Homo sapiens: one gene and its partner. The protein of the gene in region 1 interacts with the protein of each later gene in a pairwise test. Each region holds a gene or a part of one and is shown on either strand. Other genes may lie near its edges.

Region 1 (7,392 bases):
GAAGTAGTTACACTTTTCTTAAAATTATTAAAAGTTTTAAAGTATCTACCCAATAATTAAGAAGAACATGTAGCTGGATGCAGTGGCTCGGGCCTGTAATCCCAACACTTTGGGAGGCTGAGGTGGTAGATCACCTGAGGTCAGGAGTTCGAGACCAGCCTGGCCAACATGGTGAAACCCTGTCTCTATTAAAAATACAAAAATTAGCCAGGTGTGGTGGTACACACCTGTAATCCCAGCTACTTGGGAGGCTGAGGCAGGAGAATCGCTTGAACGGGTAGCAGCGGGGACGTGGAGGTTGCAGTGAGCCAAGAGTGCGCCACTGCACTCCAGCCTGGGCAACAGAGCAAAACTTTGTCTCAAATAAATAAATAAATGTAGTTGAATTTTTAAAATATAATTAGGTTTTAAATGTCTAAGTGTAAAGTAAGAAAAGAAGTAAGTGGTTAGTGCTGAAATATGTAGCTAAAAGTTAAAGTCACAAGTGGACAGAGATTTATCCACTTGTTTTGGTAACATGGAGATCATTTATGACCTGGGTTAGCAGGTATGGTACAGGGGAGGAGACAGAATTAAAATTAGATTAGTTGGTGGTTAGACCAGGAACAGTGGCTCAGGCCTATAATCTCAGCACTCTGGCAGGCCAAGGTTGGAGGATTGCTTGAGCCCAGGAGTTTGAGACCAGCCTGGGCAACATAGTGAGACTGCATCTCAAAAAAAAAAATTTAGAAAATTAAAAATAAAATTAGATTAGTTGATGGAGTGAAGGAGAGGTGAAGAAATAGAGACAAACTGTATAGGCACCTCTTATTTAGGTCTTCTTGTCTCCACTATAACTCTTGGCAGGCTTTCTTTGCTACTGATGAGGCAGAAATAAAACTATATTGTCAGTCTCAGATTTAAAAAACATTTATTTTAATAAGACTATTGCAAACACATTAAAAAAACTAAATAGTAATATTACAAAATCTATATACTTGCACATTTAGTATTTGTCAATGTGCCAGAGGTTTTCTTCATGAAATTTGACTTCTTTGAAGTGAAGGCTTTTTTCCATCATCTCTTATAGCTCTGACTGAATAAGTCTTAATGCTTTCTTCATGTTTTCTATCACTGAAATAAGAGTTAATATATATTATGCTATTAATAAATGAAAGTACAAATGCTATGATCTATTAACTCTAGAACCTGAAATTGGCCCATTTAAATTAATAGCTTTGAACATGGGAATTCGTCTATGACATTAAAGAATATGCTAAAAGTGTACATGTAAATTTAGGGATTAGACCATTGAGAGCTGGTTGGTCAACTTTATGTTGAACAATTTCATCAGAGGGGTTTTGAGGAGTACCTCTTTTTTTTTAATGCATCACTTTGTATTAGTATTGCTAGATCTTACAGGCACAGTTGTCTTATTAAATATAGTTGATAATGAATGTTGTAAAAAATAGATTTGGCCAGGCATGGTAGGTCATGCTTGTAATCCCAGCATTTTGGGAGGCTGAGGTGGGAGGATCACTTGAGGCCAGGAGTTTGAGACCAGCCTGGGCAACATACCAAGACCCTGTCTCTACAAAAAAGAAAAAAAAAGGATTAAAGTCCTAGGTAAGACTGTACCTCCTTGCTTATAGGCATTAAAGAAAGATGAAATGATTTTACTATCATTTGATGAAATCACATGAGATCTTTGATACTAGGAGAATGGACTGTCTCAAGTTTGTGTCATTTTAATGTGTACTATATTCTTTTTAGTGAGCTCAGAATTTAGTAATCCTAAAATCCCTTAGACATCCCTGTTAAAATAGATTCTGAGGTACCCCCAAAATTCTGATTTTGGTGGGAGCTAGAAGTTGGCATTTAAACACCACCACTAGCCTCAGTGACTGGTGTGTAGAAGCACTGATGTAGGGCTTCACTAGCCCTTAACAAATAGTCAGGGGTCAGCTATGACCACTGTTTGAGATCATTTGTGAATACTTACATAGGGGTAAATCCCGAGGCTCATATGTGTACAATCTGTTAGAGTATCTTCCAGCTATGTCAGCTCTAACTGTTAAAGAAGGGTCTGTCAAGGAAAAAACCAAGTCACGAAAGTATAATTTAGCATGTTCTTTTCTTTACTCTTGTAAAAACTTAATTATTATTTTATATGTGGGGGTTATGTGTACAAGTTTGTTACACAGATATATTGTGTGATGCTGAAGTTTGGGCTTCAGCTGAACCCAACACCCTAATAGTGAACATAGTAGCCAACAGTTAGTTTTTCATCCTTTGGCTCCCTCCCTCCTTCCCCCGTTTTGGAGTTCCTATTGTCTATTTTTCCTCTCTTTATGTCCATGTGTAACCAGTGTTTAGCTCATATTTATATGTGTGAACATTCACTATTTGGTTTTCTGTTTCTGTGTTCATTTGCTTAGGATAATGGCCTCTGGCTACATCCATAAAACGTTCTTAAAATCATTTTTGTTTCTTAATCTAAAACAAATGTCAAACCAATTTATAATCTAAAACAAATGTCAAACCAATTTATAAGCAAAATTAGTTTTCATACATGTCAGTTCATGAATTAACCTGAATTCTCCTTTTAGTGTGTCATAGGTCTCTGTCAATCTAGTCTGGGGCACTGTGTTGAAAGTACATTGGGATATAGATTTAATAGCATACATGCTTTGAAAAAATATTTAAAATTTTCAAATTACAGATATAGTGGATTTTGATTGTAGAACTAACAAGAGCTGATATTATTGGATTAGAAATGACTTCTCTTTAAAAAGAATAGTACTTGAACTAGCATTTAAAAATAAAAGCAAGAATGCTGATTTCTACTAATTTTGTAGATCTGATGAAATGAGATCACATACATACCTACAAACATGATTCTAGGCACATATTGCCCATCAGGTGATAAATTCTTATCAGTGGTTTCATGCTAGCAGGAGAAGAAAAAAAAAGAATGTTATTGGATTCATTTGTTTTTGATAGTTTCAAGATGATTTTGTGTGACTGTCAGTAAATTCTATTTTGGCCTTTTATAATTCCATACAACTTTCTGTATTAACCAATATTTAGCTCTTTGTGCTTTAAAAATAGAAAAAAAGGAGGCTGGGCATGGTGGCTCATGCCTGTAATCCCAGCACTTTGGGAGGCTGAGGCGGGTGGATCACCTGAGGTCAGGAGTTTGAGACCAGCCTAACCAACAAGGTGAAACCCTGTCTCTACTAAAAATACAAAAATTAGCTGGGCATGGTGGCAGGTGCCTGTAGTCCCAGCTACTTGGGAGGCTGAGACAGGAGAACTGCTTGAACCAGGGAGGCTGAGGTTGCTGTGAGCCCAGATTACGCCACTGCACTCCAGCCTGGGTGACAGAGCGAGACTCTGTCTAAAAAAAAAAAAAAAAAAGAAAAAAACGGATTCAAAATTTCCATGAAATTATAGTATTAAGAAAACATCACAAAGTTTATGTACCATAAGGTTTAGCATGATGAACTTATTCTGAGCCATTTCTTGTATTTCTTCATTTTGGGCAAATACTTTCTTTAGTGCTATAGGGGAAAACAAAATTGCCAGTTAGTTTTAAGGATCAAGAGACCTTTAATGTAACATAGCAAAATAAAGCTAATATTTAGCATTTGTTTGCATATATAACTCAGGTGTAAATATTAATAGTTCATTGGCCTATTGCCACTTTGTCCCTCATTGGAAAGCAATGAGGGACAGTCTGTTCAAGGAGACATCAAAGGATAATCACAGTGAAGACACTAGTTTTTATAATTTTATGTAACTCATTGACTCATTGGTTAAGACAACGACTTTTTTTCAGTGTTTCTACACCTTCTCAGCTCACCCCTTTCTTTTCATGGGAAGAAGAGGAATATGTAATTCCCAAGGGAATATAATAGAAATATTCAGTAGATTGGTAACAATCATTGTGGTCTTTAAGCACCTTAGTAAAATGATGGTACTCTGGCAGTTGTCTATTTTTTTTAATGGGATTTGCTGAGCGCCTTCTTAGCTATTATTACCAGGTCACTTTTCCTATTTTATATTGGAAATATTATATATTATAATAAGATATCAGGGGCTAAAATTACCTTGAGAGTATTGACAATCCTCCAGGTGATGAATAACCATTAATGGCTTCTTACTAAACAAAGAAAGTATGGAATTAAGTCAAATGATTAACTTTGGGTCAAAATATACAGTAGAGTTAGATTTAAAATTTTATTAGCTTCAATAAGGCTTACAGTAGTAATCTCAGATTTACAAATCATAGCACTATAGTCAATAGCAGTGTTACTCTATTTGTGGCCTCAGAACTGATAGTATCAGTATCACTAGGTAGCTTATTAGGAATTTAAATTCAAAGGCTCCGTTCCCAAATCAGGAAAGCCTCCATTCCAAAATTAGCTGGGCACAGTGGTGTGAGCCTGTAGTCCCAGCTGCTCTGGAGGCTGAGACATGAGAATCGCTTGAACCCAGGAGGTGAGGTTGCGGTGAGCCGAGATGGCGCCACTGCACTCCAGCCTGGGTGACAGAGCGAGACTCTGTCTCAAACAGACAAACAAACAAAAAACCAAAGGCTTCATCCCAGACCCACTCAATCAGAATCTCTGGGGTTAGGGGTGGTTTCAGGAATCTGTAGCTTAACAAACTTATTAGGTAATTCTTATGTACTCTATAGTGCAGTTAGAGAAAATCAATTCTGTATCCAGAGATAAAGGGTTATTATGAACAATGTATTCATTTCCAATGAACACTTAGTATAAGATTTCAGGAAAGTCAAAGACTTTTACATTTAGTTTTTTAAAAAGTTTTTACAAAAAAGCTGTTAATATTTGGCTATTTTCACATCCTTTCATTCTTGCACGTTGCAGAATATACAAACAACCTGAGTGGGAGTTCCCTATTTCATACATTTTTGGGGGGTCATTTTGATTTTAACCATAAAAAGTTAAAAAGATAAAAATTCTTCCTCCTACTGCTAACTTCTATAACTATGCTGTATTACTTTTTCTTATATTTTCTCCCAGAGGTTTTCAGGTCATATAACTGAAAATCTATATGAATATGTTTATATATTGTATATACCCAGATGCATGTTCACATTTATGTGTATGTATTTCTTTTTAAAAAACAAAAATACTAGCACACAAGTATCTACATTTTGCTTTTAAAATATAAATCTTAGATATGCCACTGTTCTTTTATATTATATTCTATTATATTAATATTTTATCTTATTAGTCTCCCCAAAGATGGATATTTAAATTGTTTCCAATCTCTTGTGTTTAGATTGTTCCTAAACATTTACATTTGTACACTTATTTGCTAAACATGCTTTTTTTTTAAGGCACGCAGTTTCTTTACACCCATAATTGCATCCTAAACTCTTGTATAGTTCATATTTACAGCCCCCCATAAAGTTTTTGCATTCTGAATTAGTCCTTCACATTTTGATATTTGGCATAATGTTCAAACACACTTTATACACACTGACCTCTCCTTAAACCACTCATAGATTTAATAAATCCTACAGAAAAACATTCAGAGATTACTTGAAAGCTTGATCTTCTATTTACTTCAAGGTGACAGAAGAGTTAGTTTTTCGTGATGAAAGACTACAGGAACGGAGAATTAACAAACTGTTGTGTAATTCATCAGAGAAGTATATTAACTCTGCTGAAGTACCACTGAATGAAACAAAAATGAATCTGTGAAGTAGCAATCTGATTAGCAGGCTGGCTTCTATGTCCCATCACTCTCATAGTCTTCTATTATTATATTTTCTTCCACGTCTCCTTGGGCTGAAAAGAGCTGAGGCTGGCTGGCAGGCAGTTCACTGGCACTATTCTGACTCAGAGGAAGAGACCAGGTTTCCAGCTCTGTGTCCTGTGCGGGTTCACCCAGAGATTCCTCTGCAGAATGTCCTCCGTTAAGCTGGGCTTCATCTCCACTGTCAGGGTCGATCATTCCATGTTCCCTGTCAGTCAGGGCTTCCATTTTCAGTCTTCCGAAGTGTTGCTTCAGAGGGAGCCTTCCAATATCTTGGATAAGAGAAATCTGAGCTTGATTTCTCATTGGAATGGTTATTAGAGCAAGGTATGGCAGTAGCTGAGTTTGGAGGCATAAAGCTGGTAGGCAGAAGTCAGGAAAAAGTGCTTTTGCTGCCAGGCAATTTTCCCCATACTTTTTATGTATTAGAAACCACTGCGGTGTGTGCGAGGGTCAAAAACTTGATCCTTCTCCTTGGCAATGAGCATATCCTCCGGCTTTGTTGGAATGTATCACACCTCTTGTAGCTATAGATGTCCTATATTTCCTGAGTAAAGAGCGTGTATTCCAGTCACCACTGAGGATACCTGCAAAACTTAGAAATTCACTGGCTCTCACAATATCATCAATTTCCATGAAGAAGTCTATGTAGTTTTGGTGAAGATATAAATTAAATAAGTCTCCTGGCATGTGTGACATTTCTACTACCTCCTCAGGTTCAACAAGTATGTATCCTGTTCATATTCTGATAAATGAGAGGGCAACCAAGATGAGTCTGATTCTGTTAAAGATGCTCTTTTACTGTATAAAATTTTCCCCAAAGCTCGGAAGAGAAACAGAGAAACGTCTTTGCCACCAGTAGCTTGGACCTCTTGACTTTCAAAAACCCTATCAGTTTTTTTTCTTTGTTTTGATTTTGACAGCGTAGCATTTGATTTTAAAGACATTCTTTTTTTCCTTGGCCATAAGTTGTTTTCTCCTTTTGAAGAAGAAATCTGGAGGCTGTTTATTGCACTTCTCATATCACCAGAACATCCTTGACAGAGCACCTCTAGAGAAGTTTTGTCAGGGACAGTAATTTTTCCTCCATTCTTGTTAGCCTCTATAGTCACTATTCGATTAAGAAATTTCATCGTAATTGTTGGTGCCACAGGGTTGAAACTAATATTTGAGGTAGAATGCTCTTCCCGAATTTCTTTGGGGAACAAGAAACTTTGATTATTTTTACCACTGAGACTGTCACAGATTATAAATATAAAAGGATATCGACCAATCTTCACATACTTCCTTAGAACTTCATGTAAAGTATGAGAATCCCTATAAACTGGTTAGGTAAATCTTCAACCAGAATTATCTTCTTATCAGTTCTCAGATGATCTCCAAGCATTTGTAACTTGTTATACTTTGTTGCTCTTAGTAGAAACTCTTTGCAAACTGCTATCTGAGACTGATAGGGAAACATATGGAAGCTTGATTCAGTATGAAACATTTCCTTGAAATCATCTTTTTGGAAATCTGGTAAAACTGGATTAATCCACTCTTGTACTTGAATACCATTCTCCTTTGATAGCGTTTTTTTGGTCGTTGTCTTTCCACATCCAGGAGGACCTGTTATTAATA
Region 2 (8,320 bases), on another chromosome or scaffold:
CATATATGAGAAACCAGCAAGCGTCTATGTGGAATAACTCAAGCTAGGCAGTGGAATGGTGAGCACAGCTCAATGTGAGGATTGCGATTTCCCCCGTCTCATACACCAGAAAAGCACTGCTTATTTGCCATTCTGGCCATTAATAACTGATTTTTAAGGGAAGGAGAAACTGAAAAGACATGGCTCCTACACAGTTTCAGGAGAATCTTTACATTCACGAAAGCAGAACTCTGGTGTTAAGAGTTTACCCCCTTACTGAAACTGACTAAAGCCTCTTTCAGAGAAAATCTGCTCAAGTTTGTATTTCATCCCAACCCTTCTGCAAACCCTGTTTTTCCTTCTGCAAACTTGGCCAATACAGGTTGAGAACAGCGCTTGCCGATTTTAATCAGAAGGAATGAAAAGCCCTTATTTCCTCTAAAAATTTCGGCAGAAAGTATGTTTGAAGGAATATCTGTATCAGAACAACTTAGAGCTTTTTGTAGCATAACTGCCTTTTCTTCATGTTAATTCAGCAAAAAACTGGGCCAGGCCTTGTGCTGAGTGATAAGGATGATATGACATGGCAGCTGCCTCCAGGGGTTATTATCTAGCTGGGGAGACAGACACAACTAACCACCACCCCTGTCTCCACTCACCGGAACAGGGACTCCCCCAGGGAGGAGAGGTACTCCAGAAAGATTTCTTCTGTGACTTCTGTACTCCCCACATCAACCACAGAGTCTGGAGGCCCAAGCAATGTCCCTCCCTAAAAGAGCCAACCCAAAGGAAGTCATTAAGTTACCATCTCCACTGAATGTTTTAATGTGGCTTCCCACAGTAGACCACAAACACTCTGTTCTGACTTTTTTTTTTTTTTTTTTTTTTTAGACGGAGTTTCTCTCGTCACCCAGGCTGGAGTATAATCTCAGCTCACTGCAACCTCCGCCTCCCGGGTTCAAGTGATCCTCCTGCCTCAGCCTCCCAAGTAGCTGAGATTACAGGTGCCTGCCACCATGCCCAGATAATTTTTTGTATTTTTAGTAGATACAGGGTTTCACCATGTTGGTCAGGCTGGTCTCAAACTCCTGACCTTAAGTGATCCACCCACCTCGGCCTTCCAAAGTGCTGAGATCACAGGTGTGAGCTACTGCGCCCAGCCTGACTTCATATTTAACTTGCAGAGCACCCTGGGCAGATGAAGAATGTGATTTGCTATTTGTATCAAGGATGCAATAGCTTAGAAGCATTGGTGTCCAATCCTTTGGCTTCCCTGAGGCACACTGGAAGAAGAATGGTCTTGGGCCACACACAAAATACACTAACACTAATGATAGCTGATGAGCTTAAAAAAAAAAAAAGATAAAAAAATCTCATGTTTTAAGAAACTTTACAAATTCACGTCAGGCCACTTTCAAAGCTGTCCTGGGCTGCGTATGGCCCACAGGCTGCAGGTTGGACAAGCTTGGCTTAGAGCTTTCTGGTCACTTTTCATTGCCATGTGCTGGCAGCATAGTTAGGAGTCGGACTTCTTGTTTCTAGAGGGGAGGGGGGGCCCTGGGAAGCTGATTCTCTTGCAGCTCTGACTCCTGATGCTGTCCACTTACTCAGCTGAGAAAGAGAAACCCAGAATCTGAAGTCTACTTTTGTCCCCAGTATGTCTCATCATGAGGACAGAACAGGACAACAGAAATGGCTCACACTTCACAGGCCATCTCTCCATGCCTATTTGCATAAAGTATGCAGCCAGTTTTTCTTATGATATACTTGATATCCCGTGTAATAATGGAAAAACGAGGACGGTGAGAAATCTGGCAGGCTGGCAGATATTTCCATAATTCAGTTCTTTTTGGATCTGTGAGCCTAATCCTTGCCCTATCACCATCATAGGGCAAGGGAGTTAATGGCTCCCGAAAGGCCTACAGAAAACCCTCAGCCATGTGGTTAACAGACTGCCAGAGAAAACTGAAGGAGAGACTGAGGTTGAGTGGGGAAACCAGCCACTGGGGAAGCAACGGGATCAGCAGGAGAACAAATCTGGGAAGGGATAACACTCCAGAACAGAGCTCCCTGAAAAGATCATTCATTCATAGCCACTGAGCACCTCCTACATAGCTGACATTGTTCTGGGCACTGAGGAAAGCATGGTGAGCAAGATAACCATGGTAGGCAGAGAACAATTATCTCAGAGTTGTAAGAAACTAAAAGGTCACTCTTTGACCCCTCTTATTCACTCATATAACAACTATGGATTGAGAACTTATTATGTGTCAGGCCTTATGCTAGGCACTGGGGCTGTGGTGTGGACAAAATAGATGAGATTCTTGCCGTTAAGAAGCTTAGTGTAGCAGGGAAGGGAAACTGAAAAATCCCCTTAACCAGTATATAATTATGAGCTGCAATTAAGGGGAGGCTGGAAAAGTACAGAATGCCAACAGTACGTATGACAGGAGACCTTCCCGGTCTGAGGGATCAGGGAAGACTTGCCTGAGAAAGTGACACAACTCAAATCTGAAGGATGGAGAGGCGTAACCAGGTGAAGGATCAAGAAGGTGTACTGATGTCAGAGTGCAGGTTTCAATGTCTACGGTGTGTTCAAAGAATGAGAAGAGAGTGAGGGTTGGGAGGGAACAACCTAAAAGAGGCTGGCCAGAGTCAGAGTCAGAGACCAGATCAGGTAGGTCCTGGGAGGCCATGCTGAGTTTTCTGGCTTTTATTCCAAAAGCAATGGGAGAATTCTGGCTTATGCAGTAGATTGCTTGAGCCCAGGAGTTTGAGATCAGTCTGGGCAACATAGGGAGATCCTATCTCTAAAAAAATAGAAAAAAATAGCAGGGCGTGGTGGTGCTGAGTCCTAGCCACTCAGGTGGCTCAAGTGGGAGGATTCATTGAGCCTGGGAGGTGGAGGCTGCAGTAAGCAAGACTGTGCCACTGCATTTCTGGCCTGGGTGACAGAGCAAGACCCCGTCTCAAAAAAAAAAAAAAAATCCTTCCTGTAGGATGTAGCAAAAACAAACAAACACACAACCAAAATGAATGGCTGCTTGGCCATTGCTTGAGCACCTACTGTGACAACACTTGGATAGCTGATAGAAATTTTTGGAAAAGGCTGGGCGCTGTGGCTCACGCCTGTAATCCCAGCACTTTGGGAGGCCGAGGTGGGCTAATCACGAGGTCAGAAGTTTGAGATCAGCCTGGCCAACATGCTGAAACACCGTATCTACTAAAATATACAAAAAATTAGCTGGGTGTAGTGGCAGGCACCTGTAATCCCAGCTACTCGGGAGGCTGAGGCAGGAGAATGGCGCGAACCCGGGAGGCGGAGCTTGCAGTGAGCCGAGATCGCACCACTGCACTTCAGTCTGGGCGACGGAGCGAGACTCCATCTCAAAAAAAAAAAAAAAAAAAAAAAAAAAAGAAATTTTCGGAAAAGGGTGTGGGCTTTAGTGTGATAATCCTGGGTTCTAGGACTGGTGTCCCTTATTGGCTGTTTAAGTTTGGGCAAGTCTTGATGCTTCTCAGAGCCCTCATCATTCAGCTTAACATCAGTTGCGTTCCTAGGATGAGCCGGACACTGTGCAGGGGATGGAGATGGAAGGTCTCAGCTCGCAAGGAGCTTACACAGTTCCCTGTGGAGAACCAGAAACAGCTCATTTCACCATAACATGCTCTCTGTGAGACAGAAGGACCCACACGTGCCATGGGAACAGAGAGGAGAGGAACTGGCTGGGGTGTCTGGGAAAGGTTTTATTGAGCCAAGTCTTCAGGTGGCTTTGAGGAACAATGCCAGAAGTCCATAGTAGAAGCAAAGCTCCTGGTCTACAGGAGCCCCCAGGAACCTGAGACTGCAGGACAGAGTGTAGGGGAAGACACTCACCGGGGGGCAGCTGGAGATACCACCACTGCCGAAGAAGAACTCATCCTTGTGCACAACTATGGATGTGTGCCTGTCACACAGAGAGAGACACAGTAAGCCAGAAAACTTAAACTTTTGAGAAAAAGCAAACACCATAATGCAATGAGAGTAATTTCTGCCCAAGGATAGGACTGTGGGGACCAGTCTTATAAAACCAACAAACCAAAGGTATGAATATGATAAATACCACAGATCAGGGCTTCTCAATCTTGGCACTATTGACATTTGAGGCTGGATACTTCTTTGTTGTGTGGGGCTGTCCTGTGCATTCTAGTCTGTTGAGCAGCGTCCCTGCCTCTATCCACAAGATGCCAGTAGCATCCTCCTCCCTGTATGACAACCAAAAATATCTCTGGACATGGCCAAATGTCCCAGGGTGAGAGAGCAAAAGAACTGATGAGAAGCACTGCTTTAGGGCTTGAAGATTTATAGCATGGAGAGCTAGGTTTCATGCTGGAAGCCACAGACTAGAACCTGAAATGCATAGAGTGCTGCCTTGTTTCAAAACTAGTCAAAGTAAGGAGACCCACCCAACTTACCAGATGCCTTCCAGTTGTTTCCCTGTGGAGAGAAGAAGAGATTTAGCCACTTGGGACTAGAATAAGTGGCCCCTCAGCCTTGGTAAATTCATGACATCACTCAAACCCAGGGTAACCTGTCATAAACCTCTTGAGGGACTTTCTAGGAATGCAAGTCCCCTCCAGTAAGGTCTTTAGGTTGTGACAGAGTGTAAGTAAGTTGAAAAGTAATGAGAGTCTTTTATCAGAATGCAAGATTAAAAACACTAGTATAAAGGTACCCCAGTTTTATGTCTGCTATTCTTTCCTCTTTGGGGTCAATTCAGCTATGCCTTTTTAACTTCTCTGTCTCACGTACAGTAAGACTATAGTAATACAATGAATGTTATTACTCATTTCTTCATTGAGGTGAAATCCTTCAGAAACTGATAGGATAAAACTTTGCAAATGCTATCCATTTAAATAGTTAAAGCACGTTATTCTACCTCTATGTGCCAGAAACAATGTTAGGTGTGGAAATGCAAACAGGAACGTATCACTTTCCTGCCCTTGAGAAGCTCAAAGTCAAATGGACTGAGACACACAAATAATTAACTAAAACACAATGTTAATATGCTGTATCATAGTGGTAAAAATAAGGTACTAAATATAATAAACTACTTTTGTGAGCTTCCATTACCAATGACAAGTAAGGGCAGGGATGGACATTTCTGTGGGAGAGAACAAGATGTGCACATGCATGGCTGTGAAGTCTAAAGCCTGCAGGGCAGAGTGAAGGGGGCAGTGATGGTGCCAAGGGGAGGAGCGGCCAACAGGATGGCCAGCAAAGCGGGCAGGCCTGGACTCAAAGAGGCTGTGAGGCTGGAGAGTGCCTTGATCAGATCCATGTTCGGAAAAGATAACTGTAGTTGTGGGATAGCAGATGAATTGGAGGGAAGAGAGCAGACCAAGCAGACCATCACAAGAGTCCATGAGAGATACTCTACAGCAGTGCTCAGGAGGCAGAGGAAGGGCATTGAAAGACGTGGAGTGTCAGCAAACATCACCCACTCACTCCTGCTTATCACTTCACACGGCGACATGGCAGATTACTGATTGCTAACTGCTACCTTCGCTGTTTGCCCTGTGCCTTTCTTTTTTTTAGAGGCAGAGTCTCTCTGTTGCCCAGGCTGGAGTGAAGTGACGTGATCTCGGCTCATTGCAACCTCTGCCCCCCGGGTTCAAGTGATTCTCATGCCTCAGCCTCCCAAGTAGCTGGGATTACAGGCATGCACCACCAAGCCCGGCTGATTTTTGTATTTTTAGTAGAGACAGGATTTTGCCATGTCGGCCAGGCTGGTCTCGAACTCCTCGCCTCAAGTGATCCACCTGCCTCAGCCTCCCAAAGTGCTAGGATTACAGGCATGAGCCACCACACACTTGGCATAGCATCCTCAGAGATAGTTAAGGGGACCATATGGGTTCAGATCCTGGATTTTCCACTTCCTAGTGGTGGATCTTGGGCAAGTTTACCCAGCCTGTTTAAGTCTGTTTCTCCAGTTCAGAGTTGCTGTGACTGGTAATGTTAATGTATAGAAAGCTTCACAGTATGTGATATACAGATGTCTGATAAATGGAGGCTCTTATTAGGTACAATGACCTCCTTGGGGAAAAGGGTAAAGACTTCCAGAAGATAAAAATAAATTCTACTTCAGACATGTCACAGTGGCCCACCCCTGTAATCCCAGCACTTTGGGAGGCCGAGGCAGGCAGATTACTTGAAGCCAGGAGTTCAAGACCAGCCTGGCCAACAGAGAAACCCAGTCTTTACTAAAAATAAAAATAAAAAAACTCTCTGGGTGTGGTGGCATGCACCTGTAGTCCCAGCTACTCAGGAGGCTGAGGCACGAGAATTGCTTGAACTTGGGAGGCAGTGAGCCGAGATTGCGCCACTGTACTCTAGCCTGGGCAACAGAGTGAGACCCTGTCTCAAATAAAACAAAAAATAGGCCAGGTGTGGTGGCTCACACCTGTAATCCCAGCACTTTGGGAGGCCGAGGCGGGCAGATCACATGAGGTCAGGAGTTCGAGACCAGCCTGGTCAACAACCCCGTTTCTACTAAAAACACAAAATTAGCCGGGCATGGTAGTGCATGCCTATAGTCCCAGCTACTCGGGAGGCTGAGGCAGGAGAATCGCCTGAACCCAGGAGGCAGAGGTTGCAGTGAGCCGAGATTGCGCCATTGCACTCCAGCCTGGGCAACAAGAGCAAAACTCTATCTTAAAAAAAAAAAAAAAAAAAGACAAGGTACGGTGGCTCACGCCTGTAATCCCAGCACTTTGGGAGGCCGAGGCAGGCGGATCACAGGTCAGGAGTTCAAGATTAGCCTGACCAACATGGTGAAACCCTGTCTCTACTAAAAATACAAAAATTAGCTGGGCATGGTGGCAGGCACCTGTAATCCCAGCTACTCGGGAAGCTGAGGCAGGAAAATCGTTTGAACCTGGGAGGTGGAGGTTGCAGTGAGCCGAGATCGTGCCACTACTGTACTCCAGCCTGGGCAACAGGGTGAGACTCTGTCTCAAAAAAAAAAAAAATTCTACTTCAGTATTGGTAAGTAAAATCTAAGAACAGATTTCAACATCCAGCAAATTAATATGAAATGCTATATCTATTTTACATGTAAAATTCCATTCTTTGCTGTTAGTGTTCCCAGGCTAAATGGAATAACAAGAAAATGAAATGTAGCGGAGTACTTCTGCCTCTGTTCCAATTCCAGAGATCAGTCTGCTTTTCACCAAGAGATCTGCTGCTCTGGCCCGGAAGACCACAAGTGGGCCGGGCGTGGTGGATCACCTGAGGTCAGGAGTTTGAGATCAGCCTGGCCAACATGATGAAACCCCGTCTCTACTAAAAATACAAAAATTAGCTGGGCGTGGTGGCAGGCGCCTGTAATCCCAGCTACTTGGGAGGCTGAGGCAGAAGAATCACTTGAACCCAGGAGGCGGAGGTTGCGACGAGCTGAGATGGCGCCATTGTACTCCAGCCTGGGTGAAAAGAGCGAAACTCTGTCTCAAAAAAAAAAAAAAGACCACAAGTGGATAGAGGGATCCTAGCCAGGGGTTTCTGGGGATAGCACCCTAAAGAATGTGAGGCAGGTTCTGACCTTATCCAAACTGAGGTGAAATTTCACAGTGGTTGATGAGAACCAGACTGGATGCCAAAGGGGAGTGGTAATCCATTTAGGACGAGCATCTTCAAACCCTGGGTTCCACTGGGCTATAAGATACTAAATCTCCTCTTTCCTGTTTACTATATGTAAAATGGGGAGACTAACATTCCTTTTTTTGAGACAGAGTCTCACTCTATTGCCTAGGTTGGAGTGCAGTGGCACGATCTTGGCTCACTGCAACCTCCGCCTCCTGGGCTCAAGCAATTCTGGTGCCTCAGACTCCCAAGTACAGGCTGGGATTACAGGTGTGCGCCACCATGCCCAGCTAATTTCTGTATTTTTAGTAGAGATTGGGTTTCACCATGTTGCCCAGGCTGGTCTCGAACTCCTGACCTCAGGAGATCTGCCCTCCTCAGCCTCCCAAAGTACTGGGATTACAGGTGTGAGCCACTCTATGTGGCCTAACACTGCATTTTAAATAGAGCTGATGTGCCCTTCTGAACTGTCATTTATAAATCAGCTGTTTAAATGGCTGCAATTTGTTTATTTACGTGAAGACATTTAATAGTTCAGTGAAACTGGAGAAATTAAGGATACCTGCTTTCTCTTACCTGTTCCTTCTTTTTTTTTTTTTTTTTTTTTGAGACAGTCTCACTCTGTTGCCCAGGCTGGAGTACGATGGTGTGATCTTGGCTGACTGTAACCTCCGCCTCCCAGGTTCAAGTGATTCTCCTGCCTCAGCCTCCTAAGTAGCT

The links. The genes of interacting proteins can lie anywhere in the genome.
Region 2: the proteins of AGR3 (region 1) and DESI1 interact in binary tests that used the Homo sapiens proteins (3 or more experiments, as listed by UniProt).

Annotation. Positions count from the first base shown.
Region 1 is NC_000007.14:16,858,519-16,865,910, forward strand, and holds the end of AGR3 (anterior gradient protein 3 precursor), read right to left. Parts: intron 4,145-7,392; coding exon 4,092-4,144; intron 3,543-4,091; coding exon 3,466-3,542; intron 2,930-3,465; coding exon 2,866-2,929; intron 2,066-2,865; coding exon 1,982-2,065; intron 1,114-1,981; coding exon 1,064-1,113; 3' UTR 894-1,063; downstream 1-893. UniProt on the Homo sapiens protein: Required for calcium-mediated regulation of ciliary beat frequency and mucociliary clearance in the airway. Might be involved in the regulation of intracellular calcium in tracheal epithelial cells.
Region 2 is NC_000022.11:41,603,406-41,611,725, forward strand, and holds part of DESI1 (desumoylating isopeptidase 1), read right to left. Parts: intron 4,457-8,320; coding exon 4,435-4,456; intron 4,225-4,434; exon of another isoform or gene 4,121-4,224; coding exon of another isoform or gene 4,083-4,120; intron 3,927-4,082; coding exon 3,857-3,926; intron 749-3,856; coding exon 639-748; intron 1-638. UniProt on the Homo sapiens protein: Protease which deconjugates SUMO1, SUMO2 and SUMO3 from some substrate proteins. Has isopeptidase but not SUMO-processing activity. Desumoylates ZBTB46. Collaborates with UBQLN4 in the export of ubiquitinated proteins from the nucleus to the cytoplasm.